3 linked regions of the Homo sapiens genome follow. The protein of the gene in region 2 interacts with the protein of the main gene of each other region in a biochemical or structural test. Each region holds a gene or a part of one and is shown on either strand. Other genes may lie near its edges.

What was found.
Region 1: the proteins of TMED10 (region 2) and COPB2 form a complex in vitro, tested with the Homo sapiens proteins (one study listed by BioGRID).
Region 3: the proteins of TMED10 (region 2) and COPG1 form a complex in vitro, tested with the Homo sapiens proteins (2 studies listed by BioGRID).

What each region holds. Positions count from the first base shown.
Region 1 is NC_000003.12:139,378,955-139,386,733, forward strand, and holds part of COPB2 (coatomer subunit beta'), read right to left. Parts: intron 6,476-7,779; exon of another isoform or gene 6,050-6,475; intron 4,482-6,049; coding exon 4,344-4,481; intron 513-4,343; coding exon 426-512; intron 220-425; coding exon 93-219; intron 1-92. UniProt on the Homo sapiens protein: The coatomer is a cytosolic protein complex that binds to dilysine motifs and reversibly associates with Golgi non-clathrin-coated vesicles, which further mediate biosynthetic protein transport from the ER, via the Golgi up to the trans Golgi network.
Region 2 is NC_000014.9:75,131,577-75,139,968, forward strand, and holds part of TMED10 (transmembrane emp24 domain-containing protein 10 precursor), read right to left. Parts: intron 4,311-8,392; coding exon 4,184-4,310; intron 3,431-4,183; coding exon 3,309-3,430; 3' UTR 1-3,308. UniProt on the Homo sapiens protein: Cargo receptor involved in protein vesicular trafficking and quality control in the endoplasmic reticulum (ER) and Golgi.
Region 3 is NC_000003.12:129,266,520-129,274,298, reverse strand, and holds part of COPG1 (coatomer subunit gamma-1), read right to left. Parts: intron 7,276-7,779; coding exon 7,200-7,275; intron 6,363-7,199; coding exon 6,259-6,362; intron 5,805-6,258; coding exon 5,679-5,804; intron 5,368-5,678; coding exon 5,299-5,367; intron 2,533-5,298; coding exon 2,390-2,532; intron 2,154-2,389; exon of another isoform or gene 2,056-2,153; coding exon 1,884-2,055; intron 1,493-1,883; coding exon 1,395-1,492; intron 1-1,394. UniProt on the Homo sapiens protein: The coatomer is a cytosolic protein complex that binds to dilysine motifs and reversibly associates with Golgi non-clathrin-coated vesicles, which further mediate biosynthetic protein transport from the ER, via the Golgi up to the trans Golgi network.

The DNA.
Region 1 (7,779 bases), on a different chromosome or scaffold from region 2:
ATTTGTAACAGCAGTTAAAGCATAGCATGTCTCAGTGAATGAAAATGAATTACCCAAAGAGACGCACATGACCAAAAAAGGTCATCTCTTACCACTGCTAGTTAGAATGAAAGGCTGGGTTGGATGAACAGCAATACAGCGAATGTAGTCTGAGTGTGCTTCAAACATATGAACTCTCTCCAGAGTATTGTAATTGAACACTCTAATCTGCATGTCATCCTAGAAACAGAAATTTTAAAACCATCATCCCTGTTATCAAGTAAATTATACAAAAAAACTATATCACAGGCTCAAGGAATAAAGTCTATGCCTCAAAACATTGCTGTAAATAACAAAACAAATCGGGAATCAAAATCCTGCAACAAATTTACACAATCATTGACCAATTCAGAAAATGGGAATAGAGATTCATATTAATTACTTACCGCTCCTGTCACAACCCAATTCTTCCTTGCAACAAACTTTGCAGCTCGAACAGGAAGATCACATACTTCAAATGTCTTCACCAGTGTCTTTAAAATGTAACAAGAATACACAAATTGAGCTATAAGAAAATAACCACAAAATCTACTCTGTTATATTTCAAACATCCAATTTTTAAGATCACTTCTCATTTTAGTATATTCTCAGGCTAAAATATAAAAGCTCAACATTCAAATTTTTAAAAAAGACCAACTATCTTTTAATAGATTCGAAATTAAAACACTTTTTAAAAGATAAGAGAAGGCAAATATCCACAAGATGGTATTCCAGATCCTCTGTGCTCCAGCCCTTCCCTCCCTTTTCCAGCCTCACCTTTGGCTACTCCCAGCCTCACCTCTGCTCTTGTTGTCTCTGACTTGAAAATCCACCCATGGAAACTTGTACTTCCCTTTCATAATGTAGCACCTCATAATTATGTTTAGTGCCAATCTTTCCTGCTAAGCTCTCCAAAGGCAGGAATATTTTTCACACTGTATAGGCAGAGGATAGAACAGTGGCTGGCACACAAGTAGTGTGTAATAAATATTTGTTGAATGAATTAGCTCTTAGTTTCTTTTTTTCTTTTCTTTTTTTTTTTTTTTTTTTTTTTGAGACAGTCTTACTCTGTCACCCAGGCTGAAGTGCAGTACAGTGGCACAATCTTGGCTCACTGCGACCTCCGCCTCCCAGGTTCAAGTGATTCTCATGCTTCAGTTACCCAAGTAGCTGGGATTACAGGTGTGCACCACCATGCCAAGCAAATTTTTGTATTTTTCGTACAGACGGGGTTTCACCATGTTGGCCAGGGTAGTCTCGAACTCCTGGCCTCAAGTGATCCACCCGTCTCAGCCTCCCAAGTGCTGGGATTACAGGCGTGAGCCACTGCACCTAGTCAGTCTTTTTGAAATTGAAACCCATAAAAGTGACTCATGAATAAGGTACAATTCTTTTGCATGCTTTAGCAATATGATTCCATACAAATGTTATTATTTCTTTTTAATAAAATATGAAAACACCGTGACTTATATGTTCCTCCGAGCTGCTCAGAATGGAATTATACACATAGGATAAAGGTAGAGACCCTCCTAGAAAGAGCAGAGATCATGGTACCTCTTTGTTCTCCTTCTTTGATGCCTGTTCTTAAAAGTCTGAAAGTCAAACTATCATTTTCTAATCCTTTTTTGTATCAGAGAGCAAAAATGAAATAACTAAGAAACACAATATAATCTTACTGATTGATTAACCATGTGCACTAAAAAAGTAATAGGGACCGGTTCATAAGAACTGTCCTACTCTGACTTTTCAAGCCAGAGTTCAAAGATTCTTTAGACAAAGGCTGAATGAGTAGGCACTTCAACTCTAACCTGTAGAATCACTACCAGCTGACTATGATACAGAAACTGAGAGTAGACACAACATGCGATCTATAACACGGCAGAAAAATCCACAAAAGCTCATGAGGAGCCAACAAATCCAGGGATCTGCTGAGCAGTAAAAATAAAGCAGCTGCAGAAGAAATAGCCAAGGTTCAACGCCATGTTAGGGGCTATGACTGATGCAAATAAAGAGTAAGAAAAGCTACACACACAATACATACAAATACTCAACGTAGATTAGGAAAGTATAACTAATGACTAATACTTATATGGTACTTTATAGGTTTCATACACAATTTTATCTAATTTTATTTTATCTTTTTGACAATCCTGTGATGTAGGCAAGGCAATAATATCATCTTCACTTCAGATAAATAAAGAGGCTCAGCATGGTTAAAAGGCTTGCCTATATAATTTAATCAGCAAGTTGGCTTCAAATCCTAAAATACTATGTTTTTTAAACCACTGCATGTACCACCTCAAAGAATATATAGCATCTCCTTATTTGAAATTCAAGTACATCTAAAAACCTTTTTACTTCCAAAAACCTTTTTGGCTCTCTCAAGAATTTGCTCTCAATATAGGAGTGGTAAATGCTGTTGGTGATATAAACACAGGGAAAAAACAGGGAGAATCAAAGACAGATTAATCATTCAACAAAGACTTACTATCTACCAGGAGCCTGACAGTGTATCAGGTAGTGCCTCATGCACTGGACCAACAGTGGGAAATAAGATGAGGGTAATCCTTGTCCTCACAGAACCTCCATTCTTAGAGGAAAGAAGGAAATTAAACATGAAATTACCACTGAGATGAATTATGAAAGGGGAAGCAGATGGTCCTGTCATAGGGCAGAAAAAGGTATAGAAGAGAAAAAGGAGGCAAAGTGGAAATGCAGATAAAGCAGAGATATATTACAATAAAGCCTAGAGAAAGATAAGAAAAGTACGCCTGGGCTTTAGAACATACGATGATCAAGTGATAGAGCTGAGATAGGTAAATGTAGCTGATAAGAGGGAATCCCTAGGAATAATCAGAGAGAGAGGACACCAACGTATCTGTTAAACATAAAATCAGAAATATTTTAAACATCTCAAGAACTAAACAAAAAGCAAAAAAAAAAAGTTATTTGCATCAAAGCAAAAACAATTCACAAGATAAAGATCTGAAATTGTAGAGAACACAAATACTGAACTAGTGATAAGTGAAATGCATATTATTCATTGGTTGAACAAATAATTATTGAGCATTTACTATGTGCCAGGTAATGTTATAGGTACTGAGATACAGCAGAAAACAAAATGTTAATTTATATAAAATGTCACTGATGGACTATGATATGGTTTGGATTTGTATCCCCACCCAAATCTCATGTCAAATTGGAGGAGGACCCTGGTGGGAGGTGATTGGATCATGGGGGTGGATTTCCCCCTTGCCGTTCTCGTGATAGTGACTTCTCATGAGATCTGATGGTTTAAAAGTGTGTGGCACTTCCCACTTTGCTCTCTCTCTCCTGCCATCATGTGAAGAAGGTGCTTGCTTCCCCTTCACCTGCTGCCAAAATTTTAAGTTTCCTGAGGCCTCCCAGTCATGCTTCCTGTTAAGCCTGTGGAACTGTGAGTCAATTAAACCTCTTTCCTTCATAAATTACCCAGTCTCAGGTAGTTCTTTACAGCAGTGTGAGAACAGACTAATACAGGGTATGAGTTTAGTGTACAGTCATTTCTGTTTCATTACAGTGAGTATAAAAGTATAAAGGTGTTTTTAGGTTTACTTCTGGCTTTGGTTCCTTGATGTCATTTTGCCATTTTAAATTCCTCAAATGCGAATTTTACCTGGATTTCAAGAACTTAACTTTGGACGTTAAGGATAATTACTATATAAGTAGACACAACTGTATAGTATAGTGCTAACTATATGCTTTGTACTCTTAAATACAGTCTAGGAAGACTGGAAAATATGAGACAAACTAATTTGAAGGATATGTTATTTACTCAGGTGAAAGAGAATGAGTCAAGCATTCAGGCAGACAATCTGTAAGATGTGTGTATAATCAAAAGCTGACTATAAATATTTCCCTGATATAATCTATATGGCTGAGTGAAAGATTTATCTGTGTATCATTATATTGGGCATCTGGGAGAAAAATAAATTTAACGATATCATTCTTAAGATAGAGTATTCACTGAATGGAAAACTAACGATTAAATACTTTAGCAAGTGATTCTATAATACCATCAGTTTTCTCAATTTCAAAAAAGAGCTAATACTACCTAAGTCAGAGTTGTTATATTTAAATATTGTATATAACATACCCAGGACAGTTTCTCCTACAAACTATCCCCTCATAAATGTTAGTTCCTTCATATTTAAAATACTTTGTACCAACTTGAGAAAGCAGTTTGCATATAGATTCTGGATTCTGTTATAATATTTCTTCTCTTTCATTATAAACACAGTCTCACATAGTATTTTATTTCTAATACAGTCCTGAAAAATTCCTACCTGTGTTTCATGATTCCAAACACACACACTGCCATTGTAAAGACTTGCCAACATCCATGGCTCTGTAGGATGCAGATCCACACTCTTAACTCGATCAGATCTAGCAGTTAGCTTTCTTTTGATATCAAGTCGCAGAGGCTAAAAAGAAACATTAAAAAAATTAAATTGCTAAGCCAAATAAAATATGTTTGAGATTTTAACTAAATAAGTGCATGAATAGGCCTACAAAACAATTCAGCTACTACTTTGCTAAGCTTTTGAAACAGTTTCAAGTCTAAGCACTTATTTCTTCATTTACACATCAAAAAAATCAGAATATTCAACATTTTAAGATTTACAGCAGTGGTCTTCAAGCTTTTTGCTCTAAGGATTCCTTTATAGTCCTTAAACACTTTGAGGACCCCTAAGAGCTTTTGTTTATGTGAGTTTTAGCTATTGGCATGTTACCATGTTAAAAATTAAACCTGAGACAACTTTAAAATATTTATATATTAATTCATTTTCAAATAACAAAAATAAATCCAGTACATGTTAATTAAAATAACATGTTTTTATGAAAAATAACTATGTTTTCAAAAAATTTAGTGAAAAGAGTGGCAATATTTTACATTTTTGCAGAACTCTTTATAATCTGACTTAACAGAAGACAGATGGTTTCTCATTATCTGCTTCTGCCTTCAATATGTTGTGATATGTTGTTTTGGTTAATGTCTACAAAATAATGCCTGGTCTCACAGATACCTAGTTGGAAAGTGAGGAGTATCTTAATAGTTTTTTCATTACTTGAAATTCTTCGAAATTCGAGAAGTGGTAGTTTCTTAAAGGCTACTTGCAAGGTAAAATCTGAAACCGTATCAATAAGCTGTTTATACTTCGTTACATTAAAATCCATTGGTTAAGTCCATACTTTGAATGGATCTTTCTCTCATGCATGTTTTTCTACCATTAAGCATTGGTCGTTTGGAAAATGCTGGTCCACTGAATTATGCACATCTTCTAGATGCTAACAACATCATGATACTGTATTAAAAAAATTACACATTCACTAATTTCACCACCTACTTCAACTGATAAGCCTTTAAGCATTGGAAATCCATCAAGTTCAGTGAGTTTTTCAAAATTCGAACTTTCACTTGAAAGCTTTAATTTTATCATTGGCAAGAAATACTGTCAGGGACCAGCCAACCTCTTTCAGGTTTTTAAAAAATGTCGACCAAATATTCAAGTCTGAATAAGCAGAGTTTCTCAGTCATTGTTTCAAGTAAAGCTCACAACTTAAAAACGCTACAAGTGTTTCCCCTTGAGACAACTACGATACTTCGGTATGCAGTAGAACTGCTTTATGCATACTCCCCATTTCACCACACAGAATTTAAAAGATGCATACTCAAGTGTGGAGAGGTAATAACATTTTTACTGTTTCATCAATGACATTCTTAAGTGAAAATGACTTTTTAAAAAACTGTCACAATGAAGAATATACTAACAGTACAATTTGGTGTCACTTCACTAGCAGTTTTACCTTCCACTACTTTTACACCATCAGTGCAAATATCAACATTGTGAAAGGTGCCAATAGCGTCTCACTGTTAAGAAAATAATTTTAATTTGTGGACCTCCTGAAAGAGTTTTAGGGACTCTTAAGGAATCGCAGACCACATTTTGAGAACCTCTAGTTCATAGAATTATCTAGTAAATAAATTTACTTTTTTTCTTTTTGAGACGAAGTCTCGCTCTGTCGTCCAGGCTGGAGTGCAGTGGCGAAGTCTCGCTCTGTCGTCCAGGCTGGAGTGCAGTGGCGCTGATCTCTGCTCACTGAAACCTCTGCTTCCCGGGTTCAAGCGATTCTCCTGCCTCAGCCTCCCAAGTAGCTGGGACTACAGGCGCATGCTACCATGCCCAGCTAATTTTTTGTATTTTCAGTAGAGACAGGGTTTCACCGTGTTAGCCAGGATGGTTTCGATCTCCTGACCTTGTGATCCGCCCGCCTCGGCCTCCCAAAGTGCTAGGATTACAGGCGTGAACCCCCGCACCCGGCCAATGAATTTTAAATATTCACAAATCACAATTTTGTGCCCAGGTCAATAGTGTCATATCAGGAAATATTCTGAAGAAGTGTTATTCATGAAGTCCTAGTAACCATAAAGCATAATATTGAGTTCTTTGGAGAAAAATGGTAGATTTATCTTGTCAAAAATACTAGTAAATGCTAGGTAACATAATGTGTGATCAATAAGGGTTATATCCCTATGCATGATGGCCTTTGGTATCAAATGGGAATGTCTGAAATATTTTAATGGATTTAAATTACAGAAACAATGAAAATTGGAAAAATTTAAAACAAAAATAAAAACATTCTCTCAAGTCAGAAAATATGAATAGTTTATACTAGCATTTTCAAGCCAAATTCTTCCTTTGAATTACAGAACAGATAATTATTTGAATAACTATTTTCTCCATTCTCCAAAAAATGCCATTATAGGAGAAAAGTTAATTCAATATATACAATGATCCTTAGGGCAGTGGGCTTAATTCTCTCTAGGAGGCATGCTGAGAAAAGACTGATTTAAAATATATTTCCCCTTCAACAGGTCTTAAACACAACCTAAAAGCTCATTTGGCAAGTTGAGTTACTGTCAAATCTTTATTGCTGTGATCTTCTATGATGATCATGAATGGGACAGAAATTTAAGGTTACTTTTGAATATAAAAAGAAGATCTAGCAGAGACAACTTCCTGAGACAAAACACCTCACAATGCTTTTACTCATCTTTTTTGGGGATTTTTATCAAATTTGGGTCATTGACTACTTCAAGTCTTGTTCTACCCACGCCTCCTTCATTTTCAGCAACAACCTTTACCTCTTACTTTAAAAGATCAGAGTTCTCTGGCTCTTCTCTTCAATCTCCTCAAAAATGTTTTCACTGTCATCAGTCCCTTCCTCTCTCCAATTTTCTACTTTCTTGTTTTTTTTTTTGAGACAGAGTCTTGCTCTGTCGCCCAGACTGGAGGGCAGTGGCGTGATCTCGGCTCACTGCAACCTCCACCTCCCAGGTTCAAGGGATTCTGCCTCAGCCTCCCGAGTAGCTGGGGACTACAGGTGCCTGCCACCATGTCCAGCTAATTTTTGTATTTTTAGAGACAGGGTTTCACCATATTGGCCAGGCTGGTCTCGAACTCCTCTCCTGACCTTGTGATCCACCCACCTCGGTCTCCCAGCTCCAATTTTCCACTTTCAAATCATCATCTTAACATTCCTTGCTAGTTCCCAAAATCAAGGCTTTTTACTTCATTTCTGAATTCTGCCCCATAAATTACTATTACAAATTTTAACTTCTTTTTAAATCTCTATGGAGTCAACAGGTATGAAGAGTCTATTATGTACCAGGCAGGAACCATGGTGAGGGTTTTCATATAAGCCAGCATGTCTCACAAT
Region 2 (8,392 bases):
AAATGGCTTTATGACAGGGGTCCATGACAATGGTATAACAAGGCTTACTTAAACTGCATCATTCTCATTTATATTATACAGACCATTTTGGATAATATGCTCAAAAATGGAGGAAAGCACATAACACCCGATTTTAAAGCTTATTTGCTCTTGTGTCAGTCTTTTGTCAAAGGCAAATACATTTACTTTTTAGATAAAACCAAAGTATAATATCAATTAACTTTTAAACCAAAAGCACAAAATGTCCCAGTTGATAGTTTCGGCATGAGTAAAGGGAAGGGACATGAAAGAATGTCAACTCCTACAAAGCTTAAGTTTAGGGTCACACTTGGGAACAAAAGCATCAACGAAATAAAATATTCTCTTCTCCTATCTTCTTGACATTTTGTCACATCACAAGAACATAACTAAGAGAGTAGCTTTCGTTGCTCCTAAAAAGGGGAAAGGCACCAGTCAGAAATAGGAAAGAAAATCTTGTTAGGCTAACGGTACATGATAGAAATTTCACATTTAAAAGTTTAAAGATGGAGGCTGGGTGTGGTGGCTCACGCGTGTAATCCCAGCACTTTGGGAGGCTGAGGCAGGCAGATCACTTGAGGTCAGGAGTTCGAGACCAACCTGGCCAATATGGTGAAACTCTGCTTCTACTGAAAATACAAAAATTAGCCAGGCATGGTGGTGTGCACCTATATTCCCAGCTACTCAGGAGGCTGAGGCAGGAGAATTGCTTGAACCCAGGAGGTGAAGGTTGCAGCGAGCTGAGATAGTGCCATTGCACTCCAGCCTGGGCGTTGCAGCAAGACTCCGTCCCCCCCCCCCCAAAAAAAAAAAAGTTTAAGGATGTATCTTAACCCACATATTATTTTCTCTACTTGGATGCATCCTCTGTAACTTAGTATATGTAATACTACAGATAGACTTTCTCAACATTTGCTGCCTATGCTAAGGATCTGCAGCCAGGTTCTCAGAAGCAGTACCTACCAATTCTCAACAGCAGATGGCAATGTTGTACAAGTTAACGACAGAACTACTTTTATGCCACAGGAGAGGAAGACACAAGGAGTCAAAAGGGGGAAAAAAAAAGTTTGGGTTCATAGTAGCAGGAACATTAACAGAATAGCCTGAGATTTTAACAGCATAACTCATTCCCTCTTCCACCTTTGTACTTTATCCAGGTCAACACATCAGGGTTCTCTAACGATTCCAGTATTCTGTTTCTTTACTGTAAGATACATGTAATTCTTGCCACTGTGATTAAACAAGCCCTGTAATAGTCAGCAGGGTTAAAAAGAGATTACGGAAAGGATAAACTCCTACCTACTTTCTTGGGAGATGTGGGAAAGATTTCAAGTCACAGCATTTTTCATAACTGTTTATAAACAATGGTCATTTATATCCACACTTTCTCTTATTTACATTAGTTTTGGCCCTTAGGCAACTCATACTCCTACAGTGATTATTGGCTTTGCTTTCATAACATGTATTTTTAAGTATTTACTCTCTTAATGGCCCTCGATGTCTATTTTATACATCATATCTCTTAATTCTCTAGATGGAACACTGAAGGACAGGAATTAAGTAAGTGACTGGCCATGCAAGGGTTGGAAATTTTACTTATTTTTCCTTGGTAGAAGTTATGTTAAAAATTCAAGCAACCACATATCTAACAGAGGAATTTTATCTAGGATATATAAAAAACCTCTCAAAACTCAATAGTAAAAAGAACAAATGACCTAAATAGAAAATAGACAAAAGACATGAAGACATTTCACCGAAGAGGATACATAGATGGCAAATTAGCACACAAAAAGATACTCAACATCATTAGCCATTGGAAATGCAAATTAAAACCACATGTGGTATCATTACACACATCTATGTGAATGGTTAAGATAAAAAATAGTAGTAATACCAAATGCTGGTGAGGATGTGAAGAAACTGGATCAATCATACATTGCTGTCTGAATTGTATGAGTGGCTGTATGTAAAAAGTAGAGCCACTCTGGAAAAAGAGTAGGGTAGTTTCTTACAAAAATATATGTGTTTACCATACAACCCAACAGTTGCCCTTTTGAGCATTTATCCCAGAAAATGAAAATGTATGTTCACATAAAAACCTGTACATGAATGTTCACAGCAGCTTTATTAGGGCAAAAAACTGAAAACAACTCTTATGTCCTTTAGTGGGTGAATGGTTAAGCAAACTGTGGTACATCCATACCATGGAATACTACTCAGCAATCAAAAGGAACTGCCCCCACTTCACCACGATGCAATATATGCATGTAAGAAATCTGTACTTATACCCCCTAAATATATAAAACATTTTTAAAAGAAAAAAAGGAAGAAACTATTCATACATGCAACAACTTGGATGGATTTCAAGGGAATTATGCTGAATGAAAAAAGATCAGCCTCGTAAGATTACATTCTGTATGATTCCATTCATACAACATTCTTGAAATGACAAAATTACAGAGATGGAGGACAGAACAGTGGTAGCCACAGGTTGGGGTGAGGGTATAAGAAAGGGATGTGGCTGCGGCTGTAAAAGGGCAGTGCAAGGGATCCATGTGACAGAACTGTTCTGTCTCTTGTGATGGTGGTCACATGAATCTACACATGTGATAATATTGCATAGAATTAAATACACATACACGAAAAAAGTTCAAGCAGTTGAGCACAAATATTTTAATTGTCTAAAATGACATTTTCTTTAAGAGTTATCTACAGTTCAAAGCTCACTTTTATGAGGTGTCACATCCATCACCATTTTAAGAGATATAAAATCATGAAAAGATATCACCAGAAGCTATGTAAACATTTCAGCTAAGGGTAAAGAGAAAGTTAAGGGTGTTTTCACAAGGAAATTGAAAGAGGGCAATCCAAATGAAGTCAACATGGTCACACAAAAATCTTGGTAAAAGAACTAGAATGGAAGCCCAAGCTGCTGAGCAAGTGGGAGAAGAAAAGAAAACATAGTCCAAACAGATCACACAAGGGAACCCAGGACAAATGCTGACTTTGGCATTATCTAGGTAACCCCTATTTTTTGTCATAGGTGACTCTAATAATAGACCTATTGTTGCAAAACCAGTCAAAATCCTACCAAATTAAAAAGAAGTCCCTCATTGACTTGTTGGGTGTAGGTGGTACCCCATGTCCTCCCACACCAAAAGAGATCAGTTCTGGCAAGAAAGCTCCAACGTGCCTTGATGGTGCTGTTGGTAGGATGCCTTAGGCCAGGCACGTCCCAGCGATGTTCTGCTGGCTGAGGTACAAGGTGGGAGGAGAATATGCCTCATTCATTACTCAATCAATTTCTTGGCCTTGAAGAAGCGTCGCAGGTAGAAGACCTGCCAGGTAGCTAGTCCAATGAGACAGAACATTGAAAAGATGCTGAAGTATAGGACCCGAGTGTTTGTTGACTCTAAAAAAAAACAAAAGCATTGTAAACATAATGAAGTGAGCCTCCTCAGCTGGCTAAACAATGGCAGGGGAGGTGGGTAAAGGCAATTAATTAACTTCACTCTGTCCCTAGGTCTAACAGTAGGATTTCAGATAATTTTTCTTTTTAAGTTCATTATCCTGGCTGGGCATGGTGTAATCCCAGCCTGTAATCCCAGCACTCTGGGAGGCTGAGGCAGGCAGATCATGAAGTCAGGAGATCGAGACCATCCTGGCTAACTCTGTCTCTATTAAAAATACGAAAAATTAGCCAGGCATGGTGGCTTGTGCCTATAGTCCCAGCTACTTGGGAGGCTGAGGCAGGAGAATTGCTTGAACCCAGGAGGCGGAGGTTGCAGTGAGCCGAGATCGCACCACCGTACTCCAGCCTGAGCGACAGAGCGAGACTCCATCTCAAAAATAAGTAAATAAATAAAAATAAAAGTTCATTATCCTATATATAAATGTTGAAAATTACAAAGATTGGTGCTATCAGTTTGATGTGGGTATAGACTAATTGAGGATGTTGTCACCTGCCTATCACAGTAGGAGTTTCTACTCTCTTGAAAATCTAACAAGGCTCATTTACCTTTAGCAGCAACAACAGCGAAGCAAGCAATTTCCCCTCCATATACCCACCTTGGCAAAACTGAGAAAAGGGTACACCAGAATTGAAAGTTTGGAGACTGTCTCATTTATGGGTCACTTAAGAAGTAAGAGTCGCCTTCCCCCTCACCGTTGGTATCACGCATCTCCTCTTCTCTCTTCTTCATGTAGGCAAAATCATTAACAATAGATTCTGAAAGGTCTTCTAGGCGTCGCAGCTCTACCTCTAATGGTTTGAGCTTCTCAACTTTTGCAATCTGGAAAAGAATGGAATATTTTCAGCTCTCTGAAAACATCGCTTCAGTCAAGAACATAAAGAAGGCAACAGAGAAGTCTTTTTTAAAGTTTCACCAGATTTAAATTCTCTCCTATCAATCATCCTAACATATTTTAAAATTTGGGCTTCTTTCTTTCCCTATAGACTATATCTTTCCATTTCAGACCTTTTTTGATACTTTAATTTTGACTAAAATCTTAGAAGTAATATAATAACCGTAGGCTATAAAGTAAGATATACTATTGTCTCAAGATTTTTTACTTTTTTTTTGAGACAGGGTTTTACTCTGTTGCCCAGGCTGGAGTGCAGTGGCACAGTCTTGGCTCACTGCAGGCTCGACCTCCTGGGCTCAGGCAATCCTCTTGCCTCAGCATCCCAAGTAGCTGGGACCACAGTCATGCACTGCCACACCCAGCTAATTTTTATACTTTTTCTAGAGATGGGGTTTTGCCATGTTGCCCAGGCTGGTCTCGAACTCCTAAGCTCAAGCAATCTGTCCGCCTTGGCCTCCCAAAGTGTTGGGACTACAAGTGTGAGCCACCATGCCCAGCTGATTTTTGACTTTAGTAAAGCACTTTACTTTGCACTTCCACTCATGTCTAAGAAGTAAACTATTGTTAATACAATAAATGTGGGAGTCATATTAAGTCAAACCTGGTTTTAGAAGAAAAACCACTAAATTCATTAAACCTTTGACAGTACATAGGAATGTGAGCATGTGTTGTTATAGCATTAAAGTAATAATTCAAAATACACAATTAGAGAATTCTGGTTCATATAAATCCTACAACAACTTTAAGGTTTAATATCAGAGCTCAGATGTGAGAAAACTGCACTGAATTTTTTATGTATTTTTTTCTTTTAGAATGACACAGCCAGTTATCAAAAGAAATCTTCAAGGAATTCCCTGTATGCTGAGGAATGAAGGATGTGAGAAAGAAATTAACTGTCTTCTGCTCTCAAGTTAGACCCCTAAGAAAACTCTTAAGAGTATCTAATAACTAGAGGCATCTGTCACACCAGCAAAGATGTCATTATTGTTTTTTTCTTATCAGTCTTAGATTATGCTTTGCTTTAAAATGAGATACACCACCAGAGCTTTCCAGATCTTTTTTTTTTTTTTTGGAGATGGAGTCTCACTCTTGCCAGGCTAGAGTGCAGTGGTGTGGTTTTGGCTCACTGCAACCTCTGCCTCCTGGGTTCAAGTGATTCTCCTGCCTCAGCCTCCTAAGTAGCTGGGACTACAGGCGTGCGCCACCACACCCAGCTAATTTTTTGTATTTTTAGTCGAGATGGGGTTTCACCATGTTGGTCAGGATGGTCTCGATCTCTTGACCTCGTGATCCACCTGCCTCGGCCTCCCAAAGTGCTGAGATTACAGGCGTGATCCACCATGCCCGGCCAGCTTTCCAGATCTTAAAACTTTTACATACCAGTTGCTCTTAAAGTTTCCACATAGAGAATTCTTTAATAATTCTGTTTCTGGCCGGGTGTGGTGGCTCACACCTGTAATCCCAGCACTTTGGGAGGCCGAGGTGGGTGGAACACGAGGTCAGGAGATCGAGACCATCCTGGCTAACACGGTGAAACCCCGTCTCTACTAAAAATAAAAAAAAAAAATAGCTGGGCGTGGTGGCGGGCGCCTGTAGTCCCAGCTACTCGGGAGGCTGCGGCAGGAGAATGGCGTGAACCCAGGAGGCGGAGCTTGCAGTGAGTTGAGATTGTGCCACTGCACTCCAGGATGGGTGACAGAGCGAGACTCCATCTCAAAAAAAAAAAAAAAAATTCTGTTTCTTTCTTTCTTTTTTTTTTTTTTTTAAGGATGGAGTCTCACTCTGTTGCCCAGGCTGGAGTACAGTGGTATGATCTTGGCTCACTGCAACCTCTGCCTCCCAGGTTCAAAAAAATCCTCCCACCTCAGCCTCCTGAGTAGCTGGGATTACAGGTGTGTGCCACCCCACCCAGCTAATTTTTATATGTTCAGTAGAGATGAGATTTCACCACGTTGGCCAGGCTGGTCTTGAACTCCTAACCTCAGGTGATCCATCCACCTCGACCTCCCAAAGTGCTGGGATTACAGGCGTGAGCCACTGCACCTGGCCTTAATAATTCTGTTTATATATCTGCTTCTTTACTCCCTATTTACTGTACATTCCCTATGGCCCACTTTTTTTTCTCTCCTTTGTTCAATTCATTGTCCTTGTCCTTTTCTTTGTGAAATGTTAACAGCAGTTAACAAGGGATGAATAGGAGGCATTTATTTTATGTTTTCTTATTATATTCTTCACTAAATGTGTGATGAACAAAAGTTATTTAAAATAAAACAAACTGCTGTTAAAATTGGGATGTAAAAATTGAGTTTATATTTAAGGTCCATAAAAATATGGTGATAGACTTGCGATGATACACCTACAGTTTTCTCTCACCAGAAGCACATTTTCTTGCGTTTGTAAAATGTTGGCTAGAGTTAACGGTGTGACTGGTAACTGCAGAACAGCTTCTGGGTGTAAGATTTAACCAATAGTTAATGCACAGAGCTAACTTTCCTAAGTGAATGGCCAAATGCCAGGTTTTGTCATTAACCCAGAATATATATCTGTTCATTGATCTCATATAGAGCTGCAGAACAAAAAAAAATTCCTCAAGAAAAATACAGGAGCTATACAAGCTGAACCTTAGTCTAACATCTTCCCTCCTGCTCTATACTTCCCCACTCAGAGCTTCCTAAATGAGACAGTATAAAGGAAATGGCATGATACTTCTTAGAGATAAATTATTTAAAGTTCCCTAAATAGAAACTTGCAAAAGAAACTGGAAGTGAAACTATGGCTGTGCCTCTGCCAGCTGAAAATGATATTAAAAAAAAAATTACTTTAAAGCCTACTGAATCCCACAGCCTTTGCTTCTTTTTTTTTTTTTTTTTTTTATTTTTGTTGTTGTTGTTGTTAAAGGACAATAGTCCAGAGACCTAAAACCCGAAAAACAATGATGGAATTAAACCTGGTACTGAAGATGGCTTTTGTAGATTACAGCCCCCCACAAGCTGTTCCCAATCCCTTTCCAGTAATAAAACTTATTTTTTAGTTGTACAACCAACACATAAATATATTCTTTGGCTAAAAATTTAAACTATCCAGAAGCAAAGAGAATATAAACCAAAAGTCTACCTTCATGGTTCCTCAATTCCCACATTGCTTTCCAGAGGTAAAGATGCTTATAAACTTGATGTATTATCTTTCCACACCTTTTCTTCTGAGACACTATGCTTTTGTATGTAAATGTACACAGAAAAATATAACTTAAAATCTATTTATAAATGGCATACTACACACATTGTTCTATAGCTTTTTTCCATTTAGTAAGATCTTTCCAAAAATGTCAGTGCTTATCAATTCATCTTATTCTTAACTGCTGCACAGCATTCCACACAGCTAGTATTCCACATTGTTTAGTTAATCATTCAATTCCCAACCCCTTTTCTAGTACAGGTGCTACTTCAGACTCTACACCTCTATTCATAACCAAACAGTCAAATTCCTATCTTCAAAGTTGATTTTATTTCCTCAACAAAATCTCTGCTGAGGCCAAGCGTGGTGGCTCACACCTGTTATCCCAATACTTCGAGAGGCTGAGGCAGGAGGATCACTTGAGCCTGGGAGGTCAAGGCTGCAGTGAGCCAAGATCATGCCACTATACTCCATCCTGGGAGACAAACTGAGACTCCGACTCAAAAAAAAAAAAAAAAAATCTATTGAATCCCATCTTTCATCCAGAAAATTATTTTCAGACCTTCATTAGTGGGATGAAGGTCTCATTTTGGTCTCATTTCCTAGAAGCCATTTTTGCCTAATAAGTACCTTCACTCATGATACTAATTTAAAATCTAGAAATCTTAAAGAAATCTCAAGAGACTAAAACAGTACTGAAATCTAGCTTGCCATTCCAAACACCTAGTACACCATGGATACTCAATAGTAAAAAACAACAATCATGGATATATTTCTATGTTGAATCTAAACCTAGAAATCCAAATAATATTTGGAGGAAATCAAAGAACAAAGA
Region 3 (7,779 bases), on a different chromosome or scaffold from region 2:
AGGTTCCCCATTCATTCTCCCATCAGATTTTCACTGAGGCCCTACTCCTGTGGATGTTTACAGTGTATATAAATACAACTTAGACCCAGCTCTCTCTCTCTTTTTTTTTTTTCTTCATCTCTGGATGGGCTCAAACAGACCCAGCTCTCTCAAGGAGCTCACTTGGTCTTAGAGCAGCTCCTGCCTCGGGGTCATTTCCAGCTCAAGGAAGGTCCATCCATCCTCAACTGTGACTCTAGGATGACACAATGGCGAATGTCAGTTGTATTCCACTGTGACTGTCCCTCTAGTCAGGAGGAGTTCTAACAGTCCCCATCCACAGGCTGAGCATAATGGTCTGCACTCAGATGGCCCTGAGCCACTGCCCCAAAGTCAGACCTCAGAAGGATCCTGTACTTAGTTCCACCGAGCTAAGATAGGAGAATTTAGAAGGGCTATTCCAGTGCATGAAAGGACTGCCCAGCACAGCAAACAGGTCAAATTTATCCAGAAAGCATTTGACAAGAGGAATCAAAATGTCTTAAAATCATGCTTACCCTTTGACCCAACTATTCTCCTTCTAGGAATCTATCCTAAAGAAATAATCTAAAATGCAGATAAAAATTTGTATCTAAAGGGATATTTAATGCAGCAATATAAATAGTGAAAATATGGAAACCCAAATGCCCAACATTAAAGGAGTGAAAAGTCAATCAAGTTTTGACATAGTATATAACAGTATTTTAAATCCACTAAAAAAATTGTGTTTATGAAGTATTTGTAATGATACTGGAAAATACACTATGGTTTTAAAATAGCAAGGTCTACACTGTAAGAATGATTTCAATTATACCACTTCCCCCCAAAAATAACTCTAAGGATTATGAGTAATGTTTTCCTGTTGTTCATACTTTGTTTTGAATTTTGTTTTTGTATTTCCCAAGTTTTCTTTTTACACATGAACATGTATTTCCATAAGTTTAAAAAGTTATTTTAGGCCGGGCGCGGTGGCTCACGCCTGTAATCCCAACACTTTGGGAGGCCAAGGTAGGTGGATCACCTGAGGTGAGGAGATCGCGACCAGCCTAGCCAACATGGTGAAACCCTATCTCTACCAAAAATACAAAAAATTTGGCAGGCATGGTGGTGGGCGCCTGTAATCCCAGCTACTTGGGAGGCTGAGGCAAGAGAATCGCTTGGACCAGGGAGACAGAGGTTGCAGTGAGCCGAGATCGCGCCACTGCACTCCAGCCTGGGTAACAAAAGAGAAACTTCATCTCAAAAAATAAAAATAAAAAAATAAAATTTTAAAGAGCTAAAAAGCCAAAAACAGCTCCAGTCTCACTGTCAGTTCCTGAAGGGAGTTGCTTTGCAGCCTCAGCACAAAACTGAGCTTCCTGACACCAGGATCTTACCACATACTCATCCTCATAGCCTTCGTCATCAGTCTCCCCAGTGGTGGGATCACAGTCCTTGACAGTGAACTTCATCATGCAGCTGAATGTGCAGGCCACTGTGGGGAAGAGAGGCTGGGTAGTTAGGATGTCCCCAGCCTGCAGGGGATGGGCTCCTCCTGCAGGGGACAAGCAGGCAGGGGTCACAGCCTGCTTTCTAGGCCCCTGCTATGTTATTAGTAGCAGCAACAAGCCATCCAATCCCACAAAGCTGGACAGAGGGTGCCACCTTGTAGGACAGGAAAGTCATGAGTTCTAGTGAGATCCTGTCTCTTTAAAAAAAAAAATTTTTAAAGAAGAGCACTTGGGACTCAGCTATTCTTCTTCTTGGGACTGAAATCAAGGAGCTGAAGCTCTAATAGAAGGCAAACAGCTGGTGCCCAGCCGCCCACCTCCTCCTGACCCCATGAGCTCCCAGGAGGATAGGGTGGTATCTGGAGAGGGGCTCACCAGCTGTGGGGTCTTCTTTGGGCAGTGCCACCAGTGTGTAGCAGGTCCCGGGCTGGTTGTAGGGCAGGCTCCGGGCAGGCACGTAACAGAGCACCTCATAGGCCTCAGTGGGCTCCATCTGCACTGTGACATTCTCCAAGGTCTGGTCATTGAGTGTGTTTGTGCAGTCAAACTGAACAGGAAAGAGAGGGGAGCTTAAACATTGCACTAGGTCCGAGCCATGCTGCAGAGGAAAAGCCAGGAGGTCCCACCTCTTTCCTATTGACCAAGGTGATTCCCATCCCAGTCCCCCTGCCCCAGGTTCCCTGTCTTCATGCTGACAATCGGGAGCCATGGATGTCCCGAGTCAAGAGATATGAGAGACCGACCTGTTGGGGACAGATTCTGTCATCAAGTTGGGCTCCCAACCAATGCAGTGTGGGGACCCATGACCCTACAGGACCTGCCAGACCTGGGACAACTCCCTGGGCGCATGCCCCAGCAGGGCCTCAGCCCACCTTGCTCACCTGAAAAACCATGTGGTTGGTGAAGGTGTGTTTGGTGCAGCGGATGACATACTCCGTCTCTGACTCGGTGAGGGCCACGGGCTCAGGCGAGGACTTGAAGAGGGGCCCAAGACCGCGGAACTCTGGCACTGCTGCCAACTGCTCTGAAATCCACAGGCCACATTCACTCAGCTTCTCGATCCCCAGACCAACTTGTTGATGGTTTCTAATAAATTCCCATGACCATTCTCAAGGTGTTCCACCCTACCTTAGATGGATAGATATGTTTACCCAACTGGCTACTCATTATTTCCTGAATATATCCATGCATTTTCTCATCTCCCTGACTTCGCTCATGTGGCACAACCCCCCACAAATACTCTCCCCATCTCTGTACCATGAAAGACCTCAGAAGCAAAAAACTGATATGAGACCACAAAATCCTAGACCTAATTGGAGAATCCCCCAGCTATAGAAGCTTAGCAAGGATTTCCGCCCCCTACCGCAGCAAGGATTCTTAAAAGAAGGTGACAATTAGGAAAATAAGATCGATACTGCTATAGCTACAAAATCAGACAAAATAACAAACTGGTCCTATATATTTATCAGTTAAGACAAATGGCCAATAAAGAGATATTTCAGAATGAGAGTGTTGCAGAAAACCTAACTTAGAATTGTTTGTGTCTGGTAAGACCTATCCCTACACCCTATGCCCAGGTTCAAGCACTGGATTCAAGCACAGGCCCATGGGACCCCACCCTGGCTGGTCCTGGCATTCCTTGCAAACTAAAGGGAATAACCCAAGTGAATGAGGCATCTGGCAGATGTGTGCACATGGTGTCCACCTATAATGGCTACAGCTGCCACTCTTGTACCTATTCTATGGCAGGATTCCTCGCACTATGACCATGGATCAACTGTATCAGAATTACTAGGGGTTGGCGGCAGAGCTTGCTAAAAACTCAGACTCCATCCCAAATCTACTACATCAGAATCTCTGGTTTCAGGATCAAGGAATTTGCATTTCTAACATGTTTCCTCAGATTATTCCAATATATACTGATATTTAAAGACCACTGCTCTAAGATTTTCAACTTGTCTTCCCAATTAATTGAACTCCATGAGAACAGGGATTGTGCTTTGAGGCCATGGATCTGATATTTTTCCCTTTACTTAGAAGGTACTCAATTCACGTTTCAGACATAGAGAAAGGTAGGCCTTATTTTTATTATTTTGCTTTTTTCCTCCACAAAAAGTCAGCCTATGTGACCACTTCAGCCCTCTGCAGCCTGAAGACTGAATCTAATGAATATGCAGGCAATAAAAAGCCCAGAACAATCCAGGCTAGATATTAGGAGGAACTTTTGGGCCACCATGACCATCAACCACTAGAGTGCTTTTCTATTGATATTTATTTTCTTGGGACTCAGAGTTTTGGGCCTGATACTTACTCCCTGGGGGATTCTGTTGGTAGGGTTTCAGACTCTTCATCAATAAAACTGATATCATTATCTTGATCACAGCGTTGTTGTAAAGACAAATGAGGCAATAAATTCAAGATCTAGGAAAGTTCTTGGAACTGAACATGTATGTGATTAGTAAATGTGAGGCTTTTGGATGATTGTTTAAAAATGGAATTGTTACCCTTTAAGCGGCTTAGGAGACTTCCTTGGAAGGTGTGGCAGAATAATGACTCCAAGATGCCCACATGCTAATTCCCAGAACCTGCAGCTATGTTACCTTGCATGGTAAAAGGGACTTTGTAGATGTGATTAAATTAAGGATCTTGAGCTAGGGGTTATCCTGGATTATCCAGGGGGGGCCAGTGTAATCATAAGGGCCCTTCTAGGGCAGAAGGTCAGAGTAGAGAGATTTGAAAAGGCCAGGAGTGTGGCCTCTTCAAATCACTCTACTCTGACCTTCTGCCCTAGAAGGGCCCTTAAAGACGGTGGAAGGGGCCACGAGCCAAGGATACGGGCCACCTCTAGTAGCTGGAAAAGGCAAGGGGGCAATACCTGGAGCCTCCTGAAAGAACTCAGCACTGCTAACAAATGAAACCCACTTTGGACTTCTGACCGCAGAGCTATAAGGTTATAAATGTGTTAAGCCACTAAGTTTGTGGTAACGTGTTACAGCAGCAATAGAAAACTGATATAAATGGAAAGTTTCATGTTATAGCGATCCCAATTAGCTCAGGATCCATGCTATATTGATATAAGACATGATTCTGAGTGTAATGGGGAAGGGGGGATTTCATTTAATTCAACATTAATTGGGAGCCTACTGTGAGGAAGGAAGGCACTGGGCTCAGTGCTGTGATAGACGCAGAAAATAAAAGACAGAACATGTGAAGAACTATTTAGCACAGAGGGCTGTTTAAGAGAAGACAGAAGAGCTAGGATGGAAGTGAGGGCCCATGAAGGAAGAGGGGTCTATGCTTTTATCTACTGAATTCAGTGGATAAAACAATCTGCAATTAGACACACAGCCTCTCCCCTTAAAAATGCAACACCAGAGGACAGATGGATACCTGAAGAAAACCTTACAAGACAATGTGGACAGAACACACGTGGAACCCGACAAAAAGTACCAGTGTCTTTGAATCCCAGCACTGCTCTCTCAGACATTCTGAACTGGCCTGGGCTCCAGGGACCCGAGCCCTCCAAATTGAGGCCCAGTAACAGCACTGAGCCAGTTTGATCGGGACCTTAATTCCAGCCCCTCCTACTACTTTCTCTCTCTGAACTTCCAATTCCTCAGATATTGAAGGAACCCAACAACCACCACCTGAGGGTCAAATGTGATAGTAGGTCTAAAGCATCTCAAGGGCCTAGCACTCAGGAGAGACCAATATATGACAGTTCTTACTCTTGAACCCCCTGAGGAAACTAAGCCCAGGTCCCAAGCATCCCCCAACCACTGTGACTCACCCTGGAAGATCTCCTGCCTGGTAGCTGCCACTTTCTCAGGCTGTTTGACTGCTGTGATGGGGGTACTTTCTGCAGGAGCAAATTATACACGTGATGACCAACAGCTGGAGTCACGGGGCAGTGTGGTGGTGACCCCAGTGCTATTACTCAGGGATTATAAATACTAACCCTCCTGAGAGTGGGAAGCAGAAGACATGTGAGAGAGCCCACGTCTGTGTGTATGTGTGTCTCTATTTTCTGGAGCCAGAGGTGGAAAAGATCATTTCCTCCTCCCAGCATAACTGCCACCCACCCTAGTTAGGTTAGTGGCTTTGCAGCCAATGCAGACCCTCCAACAGAGGCCTGGCCTTGATGGCCTCTGGGAGGAGTATAAGTGTTACCTGTTCTCTGCTCTGCCATGGGCGCCGTGGCCAGGGGCACAGACTTGAGGTCAAAAGGTTTTTCTGATGGTTCTAGAGTGTACTGCTGCAGAGCCCTCTCCAGACCAGGGATGGACACAGTCAGACCTGGAGGTGAAGAGAGGTCACCATGCCTGGCAGATAGAGCAAAATGTGCACCAGGGACCACCATGGAGGCCCTGGGGTCCCGAAGTTACAAGTCCTAAGTAGTATGACCCTGAGAAAATCACTTTATTCTCTAAGCCTCTGCATTCTCAGACACATCCTCCCTTACAGGGTAGGTGTGGGGAATAAACATATATACAAAGTGACTTGTAAAGGGTAAAGTACTGTAAAAATAAAGTTTTTATTAATGATGAGCGTTTCAATTCACTGGACAATTTCCACCCAATTCAGGTGTGACCTGAATGACCCGGGACCTCCTGAGGTCACCATGATGCCATGAGGTTGCCAGGCAAGTCCAGCCAAGAGCATCTTGCCTCTGATTTCCCCTGCCCAGGGAGTGATGAGAACCACAGCTCCAGTAAGGTGCTGAGTCCAAGATAGCCAGGGAATGACTCACCATTTAGGATATAGCCTGCATTAAGGGCCTTCTGCTTCTGCTCCAGGACATTTAGGTAGAAGGTGGCTCGGTCCCTTACTTCATTGTCATCATCCATCACACACCTGCAGCCAGGACACAAGGTGGTCCTGACTGGGACCCAGCAGGGATGGCAGGAGGGATCCTGCATGGCTTCATTAGAGGTAAGTCCATAGGGATAACAAGTAGACTAGTGGTGGCCCCAGGCGGAGGGTGGAGGGAGTGAGGAGAGGCCACACTCATGAACACTGAGTTCCCTTTGGGGTGATGAAATGTTTTAAACTCAGGTTGTGGTGATGGTTCCATCACTCTGTGAATATGCTAAAACCCATCAAACTACACATCTTAAATGGGTAAATTGTATGGTATGTGAATTATATCTCAATAGAGCTATTTTTTTTTTGAGCTGGAGTCTCGCTCTGTCACCCAGGCTGGAATGCGGGGCATGATCTCGGCTCACTGCAAGCTCCATCTCCCAGGTTCACACCATTCTCCTGCCTCAGCCTCCCAAGTAGCTGGGACTACAGGCACCCGCCACCACACCTGGCTAATTTTTTATATTTGTAGTAGAGACGGGGTTTCAGCGTGTTAGCCAGGACGGTCTCAATCTCCTGACCTTGTGATCCGCCCGCCTTGGCCTCCCAAAGTGCTGGGATTACAGGCGGGAGCCACTATGCCCGGCTTCAATAGAGCTATTTTTAAAAAATGGACAAAATAATTCAAGTTACCAATTGTCACATCTGGTTGGTGCAATTTGCACAGCATTGTTTTTCATGCTTTTCTATGCTTTCTCTTTTTTTTCTACAATCAGTAGCTGTATAACTTTTCTCTCCCTTTTCAGTTAAAAAAAAATAAAGACAAAGGAAAGCTGCTTGGGTCCAAGGGAACACTGTCCCCATTAGGGCCCCTGGGCCTAGACTCACCTCTTCAGCAACACCAAGATACTGGGTAACATCTCTTCATTCTGGGCTCCAAACTTCGCCAGAGCACTCACAGCACCTGTGTTTAGGAAGCGAATGTGATTTACCCAATGCACCCTGACAACTCACTGTTTGGGCACTTCCAGCACTCAGAATGGGTCTTCAGGCAGAAGAGCCCCAGAGGCAAGAAGTCTCAAGCCAGGAGGCCCAAAGTCACTACCAACAGAGTGAGTGGCTTTGGGTGGATCTTGGCACCATCCCAGGCCTCAACTTCCTTATCTATTTAATGGAGAAGGGCGCCAGATGGGATTAGTAGCTCCCATTCTAAGGTTCCAGGAGCTAATTTCAAATTAACCATGATGAGGTCACAGAAGCTGGCTATAATGTAAAGCTCCTCACCTTCCATATCCAAATGGCGTCAATTTGCAGTTAAGGCTCAGAATAATAAAAATGAGAAAGGGAACAATTACTTAAAGATCATTTATTGCTGAAAGAAGAAAATCTGTCCAGTGGGGGCATGAAAAGAAATTAAAAATAAAGAATAGGAAGGTTGCTCACTGAATTGTAAACTTTATATAAATGG